Linked DNA regions of Homo sapiens: region 1 is linked to region 2. The links come from fine-mapping of genetic effects on gene expression. A gene starts in region 2. The other region holds a variant in brackets. All regions are shown on one strand. Distances are from middle to middle. Region 1 overlaps RPS6KA1 (ribosomal protein S6 kinase A1). Region 2 holds the start of RPS6KA1 (ribosomal protein S6 kinase A1).

Region 1 (5,367 bases), 45 kb before region 2:
TAATGACTTCCAAATTTATCTTTCCAGTTCAGATCTCTCCCTAGAACTTCAACTTCTAATTACAACTCTTATTTGACATCTCCATTTGGATATTTTTATTTATATTTATTTATTTATTTTTTGAGATGGAGTCTCGCTCTCTCACCCAGGCTGGAGTGCAGTGGCACGATCTCGGCTCACTGTGAGCTCCATTTTCTGGGTTCATGCCATTCTCCTGCCTCAGCCTCCTGAGTAGCTGGGACTACAGGTGCCCGCCACTAGGCCCGGCTAATTTTTTGTATTTTTAGTAGAGACAGGGTTTCACCATGTTAGCCAGGATTGTCTCGATCTCCTGACCTCCTGATCCGCCCGCCTCGGCCTCCCAAAGTGCTGGGATTACAGGCATGAGCCACTGCGCCCGGCATAATTTTCTATTATTTTTAGTAGAGACGGGGTTTCTCCATGTTGGTCAGGCTGGTTTCGAACTCTCAACCTCAGGTGATCCACCTGCCTCGGCCTCCCAAAGTGCTGGGATTACAGGCGTGAGCCACCATGCCCAGCCATTTGGATACTTAAAAGTTACCTCCCACAGAGCTCTAAAAATTTTCCTCAAACCTATTTCTCTCCAATGCTTCCCCCAAAACTCTTTCCCCAAAAATCTAGAAGATATCCTTGAATCTTCTGTTTCCCTTATCCTCTGCATGCAAACTGCCAGCAAGTGCTGTCTACTTTACCTCCAAAGCATATCCTGACCCCATCTACTCCATCCCAATCTCCATCCCACCACCCTAGTCCAAGCCACCTCATCTCTTGCCTGGGCTACTGCAGTAGCCACCAACCTGGTCACCTTGCTTCCCTCCTGCCTCCCCACCTCACTGTCCAAATTCTCTACAGAGCAATCGGAGTGATCTTTTATTTTTTTGAGACAGTCTCGCTCTGTCGCCTGGGCTGGAGTGCAGTGGTGCGATCGCGGCTCACTGCAACCTCTGTCTCCCAGATTCAAGCAATTCTCATGCCTCAGCCTTGCGAGCTGATGGGTGGGAGCATGCGCCACCACACCCAGCTAATTTTTGTATTTCTAGTAGAGAGAGTTTCGCCATGTTGGCCAGGCTGGTCTTGAACTCCTGACCTCAAGTGATCTGCCTGCCTCGGCCTCCCAAAGTGGTGGGATAACAGGCGTGAACCACTGCACCTGGCCCAGAGTGATCTCTTAAAAATGTGAATCAAATCATGATCAAATCATGTCACTTTCCTGCTCAAATTATTTTAGGAGCTTGCGCCTCACTCAGAATTAAATGCACGCCTAATCCTGGCTTACAGTGCCTAGCATAACTGGCCTCTGCCTCCTTTCCAGCCTCATCTTGGGCAAACGCCTGGCTCTGGGGTCACAGCTACATCAGCCTCCTCTCATCCCTGAGCACACCGAGCCTGTTTCCCCCTCATGGCCTTTGTCCTGACTGCCCTCTGCCTACCAGTCTTGGCTGACCCCTTCTCACCATTCAGATCTCAGCTCCTGGGTTACCTCCCCAGAATGGCCTTCCCTGATTACCCAATATCTCACCCCAGTTTAATTCTGTATGTGTCTTATCAGTAGCTGACCATGGCTTGTTAAGTGTCCGTTTCCCCTACTGGGAAGTAAGACCCCTGGACACAATGACCTTGTTCTTTACCTGGTTCACCAGCATCCAGAACAGGGCCAGAATGAGTGCTCAGAAAATACTGCATGAGAAAATGTCATTCCCCAACTTGAGCCTGTTTCCCCATCTATAAAACAGGGATAATACAGAGCATCTACCTCACAGGGTTAAGATTAAATGAGATATTCATGTGAGGCCCAGGCATAGTGCCTGGCACTTGGTCACCATTGGCTAATAATACTGTTATCAATACCATAATGGAATCCCCTGGCAGGAACACGTGGGCCAGGCCAGCGGGATTCCCACACACTCCCCAGATGACCTGGTTCCAAGCAGCTGGGCTAACTGGCCCTGGCCCATTTTCTGTCACTGCCAATGTCTTCAACATCCGATAGCAGAGAGAGGGTAAATTCAGGGATGAAGAGTGCAGGAGAGCGTGCTTCAACTCAACAGTTTATTAGAAAGGCCATGGACAGATGAACCCTGAGTAACCAGCTGAGGAAGAAATGAAAAAAGACCCTGTCCCTCATGGCCCGCCCACTGGCCTCCTGTGAACTCTGTCCTGTTGCCAACCCCAGATGAAGTCAGCCAAAAAGTGCTTTCCACATCCTCTCTCTGGGGCTGCCCAGCCTGACCGCAGGGGATCCACTGGCAGAGCCAAGGTGGATGCTGGTGCCTGAAGCTGGAAGCCAGCAGGACATGAGACCCCTCCTGTAGCAGGAAGTGGTTCTAGAACTCCCAGCAGAACAGAACGGAAAAGGAGCTGATTGGGGATAGAATGAGTTCTGCTAAACAGCCAGATGCTCTGAGAGAGGTGACACTGGACTGTCTCGGAGGTGTGTGCAGATGGCTACAGGTGGCCAATC[G/A]TGGGGGTCCCCAGGGTGGGATCCCAAAGCTGCTCTAAAGAGTCTCAGAGAGCCCCAGCGTGACTCAGTTCCCCTCCTGGGGCCGCAATGGCTGTTTCTGCTCCCAGAAAGGCAAATGGATCTTGTAAAAATCCATGGTGGTTGATGCCATTTTTTTCATAAAAAAAAGTTTATACAGTGAATCGCTTTCCACCAGCAGAGCCTGAGCCGAGAAGAGTCCATCCTGGGGAAGGAGAAGGCACTTCTCACACCCTCATTAGGGGTGTTCTGGGCTGGCAGCTTCCCCGGCCCCTCGGGTTCCAGCTCCCTCTGGCCCTGTGGTTCCGGCCTGCTCCCTCTGGGAAGCATGCTGACTGTGTCAAGCTAGCACCGCCCTGTGGCCCGAATGCCCTGGTGCCTCACAGGGTGGTGGATGGCAACTTCCTCACTCGCCGCTGGGCCAGGATGGATGACTCGATGGGCTTCAGCTGGGGGGTGGGCTTGGAGCTGTTGAGTGCGGAGTACGTGGCAGCCATGGCTCCCTGAAAGAGAAGTGGGGAGGTCAGGTCACAATGGTGGGAGATGTAGCGGGGAGGGGATCCATGCCCCAAGGGTAGGCCAGCCCCTCTCAGTGTTCCACAGCCCACTTTTTTTGGTTTTGTTTTTGTTGTTTTTTTTTTTTTGAGATACAGTCTCACTCTGTCACCCAGGCTGGAACGCAATGGCACAATCTTGGCTCACTGCAACCTCTGCCCCCAGGGTTCAAGCGATTCTCCTGTCTCAGCCTCCCAAATGGCTGGGATTACAGGCGCTTGCCACCACACCTGGCTAATTTTTGTATTTTTAGTAGAGATGGGGTTTCACCATCTTGGTCAGGCTGGTCTTGAACTCCTGACCTCGTGATCCACCCACCTCAGCCTCCCAAAGTGCTGGGATTACAGGTGTGAGCCACCGCGCCCAGCCTAGCCCACTGTTAATCCAGCCTCAGTGGTCCTTTATGGTCATGGGTCCTGCCTCCCCCATCAGACTGGAGGGTTCAGAGGTCAGCAGCTGTGCCTTCCAGAGGATTGGGGGCTGTGAGTGCACCGTGACACTGTAGCATGTTAGGCTCCCTGACGGCAGGGCTGTGTCTTCTTCTCCTATGTTCCACCTCATGGTGCTTGGTACAGACATGGCATTGCCTGGCTCTTCCACAAGTCCCTGACCATGCCACCTTGGGCTGACCCCCCAGATGCCCAGCAGCCCAAGGGTGGCCATACCTTCACAAGCTGTAGGTCCTGGTGGGACAGCTGGCTTTGGGGAAGCTTGTCTTTCTGGGTGACCCATGGATGCTGCAGAACCTGCTTAGCTGTGAGGCGCTGGTGGGGATCCACGTGTAGCATCTTGGACACCAGGTCCTGGGGACACAGTGGGCAAGGGGGTTGGGGGAGGGCTGCAGGGGAGCAGGCCCCTGATGGGGCACAGGAGGGCAACCATCTCCTGCTAGCTCCCGCCTGAACCCTTGCGGCAGCCCCTGGGATCCATTCTCCACTCTGCTCCAGGGCTCCCCGCACACAGCCAAGGTTCCTGTCGCTGGGCCTTTGCTGCTCTAGGCCCTTCGTCCTGGAACACCCTTCCATTTCTCCTTTGCCTTCAAAAAGCCATGTGGGAAGGTGGGAAAAGCCTCAGGTTTGGGCTCAGACAGATTCAGGTTCAAAACTTGCCTTCTGCACTCATCAAATGAGTGCCCTGGGCAAGTTCCTTCAACTCTCTGAGCCTCAGTTTCCCTGCTGAGAAATAGGAATAACCACTCCCTGCCTCACAGGTTGATGTGAGGTGGCCGGCCGTACATAGAGGGTTCAACTCTGTCTGGCATACAGGTTCCCAATGACCAAAAACTGTTGCTAATACTGAAAGCTCACATGCTACTTCCTCCGAGGAGGCTCTGCTTGGCATGGCCAGTTGCTCTGCTCTGTGTCTCCACGGTCCACACCCCTGGCCAAGAGCGTCCGCCTATCTGTGCCTCCAGGCATCTCTGCCCCTTGTGTGCAAACCTGTATCCCTCACTACACTACGTTTCCACAAAGCCGGGACTGTGATGATGCAGCCCTCAGTGCCCCACAGGGTCCAGAATGAGAAGGGCCAATGAATGATCACCAGGTTACCCCAACAAGGTACGGAGGTGGTGGTGGTCTGCCTGGGAATCTTCCGCTTGGAGAAATACAGCAACAGGGATTTGTGGAACATCCGCTTGGAGAAATGAGGCTGTTCATGAACTGCTGAAAAGCCCTAGGATGGGACCCTGCCTCCCTCCTCCAAATAAGCCCACGCAGGCCGTACAGACTCACCTTGGCTGTCTCTGAAACTGTGTTCCAATTTCCCCCACTGAGGGTAAACTTCCCACTGCCGATCCGGGTTAGGATTTCCTCTGGTGTGTCACTGGGACCGTTGGCAAATGGAGTATATCTGCAGAAAAGCCCGCACGGTCTGGGTACAGACTCTGGCCTCCATACTGGGGCTGGGGCTGCGGTGGGAGACTGTGTCTCCCCCTCAGATGGGGTACTCCCAAGGTAGAGCTCCTGGAGGCAGGAGCATGTCCCTATTTCCAGACCATCCTGGGGCGGGGCTGGCTGAGCCATTCCTATCAGACAAGCACCACTCAGCCCAAGTGCTAGGGCTGCAGGAGTGGGGAAGGGTCCAGGCCAGGGGCACTCACCCTGCCAGCATGGTGTACAGCAGAATGCCCAGGCTCCAGATGTCGCAGCCTTCATCGTAGCCCTGGCGCTTCAGCACCTGGCAACAGGGCAGGGGAGGTGGTCAGTCTGGGGGGGCAGTAGAAAGTCGCCACAGATGTTTCCTGCTACTCCCCTCAAGGGCAGGACAAGGGTCCCAGGCACAGGCTAGATCTTCCCTTGCCAGCTGGGCCA
Region 2 (5,345 bases):
GGACAAGGCTACTGCTTTCAACAGGGCTAAGCGAGGCCCAGGCAGAATCCTCACCCACGCTTCCCATAGATTACTCCACCTGGGCTGCACCCTGGGCCAGGCCCTGCCTCCCAGCGGCCCATTTTCAGCAGCATTAAGGGAGGGCAGGGCAGTCCAGATCCTAGGTCCCTGTGAAAAGTCCCCCACCAGCCCCTCACCTGCCTCCTTCCTGGCTAGGAGCTGCCAGCAGTGGTGGTGCCTGTACGTGCAGGTCAGGCGGCTGTATCGCTTACATGTCACCTGGGCTAAGAACAGCGAGGCCCTGTTCTCCAGTGAGAACAGCCCAACCTGCGCCGTGGCTGCCCTGTGGCTCCTGTTACCCAAACAATAACACCCAGTCGCCTGGCACCTCCAGGAGTGGGGGAGGGGGGACCAGACAACAGTACCCAGCGCTCTGCACCCTCTCAGGCCCAGGAAGTGGAGGCTAGAACCTAGCACTTGCCACTGGAGAAGCAGAGGCCCAGACAGGCTGAGGACTGACTGAGGATCACACATCGTTTCTGGAGCGAAGCTCCTGAGGAAATTGCGTCCCCCTGCCCCACCAATCCCAGGAAGTCCGCTGGTCTTCCCCTCTCACAGACCTGAGATGTTACAGAACTCAAAACTGAGATGAGTTTCCCAGTTAAACCTGGCTCCCTGGTGAAGCTGGCCCCTGCCTCAGGATTCCCTAAAGAGAAGCAGGAAGTGGTGCCCCAGGATCGAGCTCCTGGGTGTCCACCCTCCCTATCAGCATAAAGTCACTCCCCAGCCTCTCCCAGCCCTACCTTCTCCTTTGGAGGCCTGGTCCCAGGGGCGTGCCTGGGCAAAGGAATCCACCTCTGAGCACCACCCCCAGGACCTTGCGCCCCGGTCCTAGTAGCGGGGTGGCAGTACAGGGGCTGCAGAGGGCAGTGTTCCTCACCTCAGAGGGTGAGTCAGCGAGAGAACCTCTGAGCAGCCTAGCAGTGCCTGTAAAATCCCCATGGCAGGAATCCCAGAGCAATTTACTCCAAATTGCTCCTTCAGGTTGGTTACCTAATCCTGCCGCGCCCACCCTCCAATAGCCAGTGTCGGCCATCCCTTTAAAGGGGCAGCACACCCTGGGGGCTGGGGACCCTGGGTGCTCACCCTGATCTAAGCCTGTGGTCCTGAGAGGCAGGACACTTGGTGGCTGCCCTAGGTAAGAGAGGGCAGAGGAGGGGACTGAGACAGGGGCTCCAGGCCCAAGCTGGGAGAAAGTCATCTCAGCTCCTGGGCTCAAATGAGGTCTCCATTCCCTCCCTGCATACCCCCAACAACCACCTGGGAAGGAGAATATCACCTGCTTCCTTCCCAGCAAGAGGTTAAGGAGGAAGTTTTCCACCAGCTCATTCAGGGGCTTGACCTTGACCCTGGGGTCAAAAGGCACAGGAAGAGGTGGCCTTCTGCACGCTTAGGGACTGGAGCCACAGAGCCCTCAAGGGAGGTCAGGAGCTGCTTCTGAGAGAGAAGGAGCTGGGTTGTCTGGGGAGTCTGGGCTGGCAGAAGCCAAACTCCCCAAGGGCCCAGCCCTTCCTACCGGAAGGGGCATAAGAAGGGAGGCAGGCACCAAGGTCCCCCCACGCCCTGCCAGGAATCATCTTCACAAGGTCTAAGGGCTCTTCCCCACTCTCGTCTCCACAGCCTGGGGTAGGGCACACAGGTGTCCTCTGGCCCTAGCCTCAGGGCAAAGAAAACCAGGAGTTCCAGCCCCAGACGGGTGGTGCCATCCCACACTCCGCATCCGCCAGGGGTCAAGAGGAGCAATCCTTCTAGGCTCAGCAGCGGTGAAGCCAGAAGCAGGGAGCTCTTGGCGGAGGGCCCTGGGAGAAGTGGGGGTCCCATAACCCCTGTCTCTGGTAGAATCCCAGACATCTGGCACTGAAGATCTCCCCGTCTGCATTAATGGAGGAAGCTCCGACAGCTCTGGACAGATGCCGGGACGGGTCCTAGGTGTGGGGTGAAGGCGACCAGATCTCAGCGCCCCATAGGATCCCCTCTCCTGGCTATGGCGGGGAGGTAGTCGGCGCTTGGCGGAACTGTCCCTCGCACACGCACACCCGGGCATAGGGGGGTGGAGCCGGACAGTGGGCAAGAGATCGGAGGGCACTCGCGCCCTCGCGGGCGCCCGCCGGACTGCAGCGGCGCTTCGGGCCGCCCCGCCCCTGTGAGGATCCGGGCTCGCCGGCCGCGGGCGCCCGTCCCCCGCCCCGCTCACTCACCTCCGGGTCCAGAGGCACTAGCTCCATGAGCGGCCAGGGCTCCTTGAGCTGGGCGAGCGGCATCTCGCCGCCGCCAGGTCACCCGCGCTCCTCCGGCGGCCCCGGCTGCGCCGCCTCCCGGGTCCTGGGGTCCCTGGCTCTGCGACCCGAACCGCCGCGCCCCCCCGAGCCCCTCGCGCTCCGGCTGGGCCGTCCGCCGCCGCCGCCGCGGCACTAGCACTTCGGCTCCCTCCGTCACCCGGCGCCGCCGCGCCCATTGGCTACCTGCGCGGGGGCGGAGCCGGAGAAGCCCCGCCCCAGCCCCCGCGGCGCGGCATTCCCAGCGCGGACCCCCGCCCCCGCCGCGCCCCGAGGGCCGGCCCCGCCCCTGCCGCGAGCCCCCGGCCCGCGCTCGGCTCCGCCGGAGAGGCCCTGCTGGCTCCTTCCCTTCCAGTGGTGTACCCCTGGACACACCACACCAGGGCCACCGTTCTCCCCCGCTCAGCTCTTTTGGAATCCCAGCCCAGATGTTCCTTCTCCTTCCAACGGGAGAGAAGCACCTTATCCCCGACCCCAGCACACACATTCACACTGGGTTCCTGGGCCTGATCTAGGCTGAGGCTTGGAAGGAGCCTGAGACCCACTCCCCTTAGGCCCTCAACTCACCAGGCCCTAGAGATCCCCTATCCTCTAATTTCTACCCCGCCCTGAAGCTAACACTGTGATCTCCGGGCGATCTCAGTGCCCCAGGCCAAGATGGGCATCAGCAGTTGTTACCACCATCAGGACCCATAGTGCCACCACAGAGTGATTGATTGATCGATTGATTTTACATAATGTATATAAATATTACATATATAAATAAATATGTATAAATAAATATTATATATATGCACATATATGTATGTATGTGTGTATATAGTGAGAGAGAGAGAGACACGAAGTTTCGCTTTGTTACCTAGGCTGGTCTCTGACTCCCCGGCTCAAGTGATCCTCCTGCCTCGGCCTCCCAAAGTGCTGGGATTACAGGCATGAGCCACCGCGCCCGGCCAAGAGTGATTTCTTAATATGCGTTTTTGCAATCTGTGCTCTGCCCTATCACTTGAAGGGGGTCCTTTCAGGTCAGGTCTCCCTGGAGTCACCTGCAGCCCCAGCTCTGGACTAGTTTGGGTTTGCGACTCTCTGAGGAGGGACCAGGCTCCCAGGATGAACCGAGGCTTGGTGGGACTTGGAGTGAAAGGCCAGGGAGACTGGTTGCCCCAGAGAGATTCAGCCTCCACCTAAAGAGCCTTAGGGGTCCGGGTGTGCTGAGATGTATTCACATGTGAGGAGTGAGCTTGCTGGAGGGACAAGCTTGCTGGTTTCGCAGGAAGACTGGTCAGTTATTTGCAAAGCTGTTCTAAGGCAGGGGAATGGGAAGGAATGTTTATCAAAAGCTTCCTGCGAGCCATGTGATTTCCTTGAATGATTACCACCACCTAGTTTACAAATCCTGAAACAAGCTCGGAAAGATGAAGTGACTTACCCAAGGTCACACAAGAGGTTGAGAACAGACTAGGGCTTAAAAAAATCAAAGTGTCACACCTGTAATCCCAGCACTGGGAGGCCGAGGCGGGCGGATCACGAGGTCAGGAGATTGAAACCATCCTGGCTAACATGATGAAACCCTGTCTCTACTAAAAATACAAAAAATTAGTAGGGCGTGGTGGCAGGCACCTGTAGTCCCAGCTACTCGGGAGGCTTAGGCAGGAGAATGGTGTGAACCCGGGAGGCGGAGCTTGCAGTAAGCGGAGATAGCCCCCACTGCACTCCAGCCTGGGCGACAGAGACTCCATCTCAAAAAAAAAAAAATCAAAGTGGATAAGGATTTCTCCAGAATCCACGTGCTCCCCCTTTTCCATGGCTTTCCCAGGGTAGGACCTCAGCTGTTGAACTGAATTTTGAGTGAAAGGACTTTGGAACCCAACAATTCTGGGTTTGAATTCCAGCTCTGCTACCTTCTTAACACAGGGAAACTCATTTTATGCCTCTAAACCTCAATTTCTCCATCTGTAAAATGGGAATTATAATCTCAATCTTTCAGGTATATAGGACAAGATTCATTTTAATTCAATAAATTTACAGCTATATATTTTTTATTTGTTTTTTAGAGACGGAGTCTCGCTCTGTTGCCTAGGCTGCAGTGCAGTGGTAAAATCGTAGTTCACTGCAGCCTTGAACTTCTGGGCTCAGGCGATCCTCCCACCTCCCACAAGTAGCTGGCACTTCAGGTGTGTGCCACCATGCCCAGCTAATTTTTTTTCTTTTCTTTTGAGACAGAGTCTTGCTCTGTCAACAGGCTGGAGTGCAGTGGCTCAATCTCAGCTCACTGCAACCTCCACCTCCCAGGTTCAAGCAATTCTCCTGCCTCAGCCTCCTGAGTAGCTGGGACTACAGGTGCGTGCCACCACGCTTGGTTAACGTTGTGTATTTTCAGTAGAGACGGGGTTTCACTGTATTAGCTGGGATGGTCTCAATCTCCTGACCTCATGGTCTGCCCATCTTGGCCTCCCAAAGTGCTGGGATTATAGGCGTGAGCCACTGTGCCAGGTCCCCAGCTAATTTTTTATATGTTTTGTTTTTGTAGAGATGGGGTTTCACTATCTTGCCCAGGCTGGTCTTAAACTCCTGGCCTCAAGCGATCCTCCAGCCTCCCAAAATGCTGGAATTACAGCCACCACACCTGGCTTATTTATGGCTATATATTACACACTAGACCCTCTTTCTGAGCATGTATTGTAAGCCAAGCCTTCTTTTTATTATTATTATTATTATTTTGAGATGGAGTCTCACTCTGTCGCCCAGGCTGGAGTGCAGTTCAGTAGCCTGATCTCGGCTCACTGCAACCTCCGCCTCCCGGGTTCAAATGATTCTCCTGCTCAGCCTCCCAAGTAGCTGGGACTATAGGCATGTGCCACCACACCTGGCTAATTTTTTTTTTTTTTTTGACGGAGTCTCGCTCTGTCACCCAGGCTGGAGTGCAGTGGTGCGATCTCGGCTCACTGCAAGCTCCGCCTCCCGGGTTCACGCCATTCTCCTGCCTCAGCCTCCCGAGTAGCTGGGACTACA

The links. PIP is the estimated chance that this variant, and not a neighbour inherited with it, causes the effect.
Region 1: its variant is fine-mapped to the expression of RPS6KA1 in whole blood (TOPMed, PIP above 0.99). The same link has a PIP of 0.9 or more in lung and nasal epithelium.

The regions. Positions count from the first base shown.
Region 1 is chr1:26,571,715-26,577,081 of GRCh38, reverse strand. It overlaps RPS6KA1 (ribosomal protein S6 kinase A1), which reads right to left. Exons shown (of 22, transcript NM_002953.4): 19 at 5,157-5,233; 20 at 4,789-4,906; 21 at 3,721-3,858; 22 at 2,057-3,003. The coding sequence ends at 2,881. Among named protein-coding and RNA genes, the nearest start is that of MIR1976, 20 kb to the right of the region's middle. The variant G/A (reference allele first, on the strand shown) is at 2,483.
Region 2 is chr1:26,526,897-26,532,241 of GRCh38, reverse strand. RPS6KA1 (ribosomal protein S6 kinase A1) reads right to left here and starts at 2,481. Exons shown (of 22, transcript NM_002953.4): 1 at 2,259-2,481. The coding sequence starts at 2,321. LOC124903884 (a long non-coding RNA gene) reads left to right here and starts at 844. Exons shown (of 2, transcript XR_007065558.1): 1 at 844-1,044; 2 at 1,681-3,122. RefSeq lists enhancers at 53-964, 965-1,875 and a silencer at 2,117-2,596.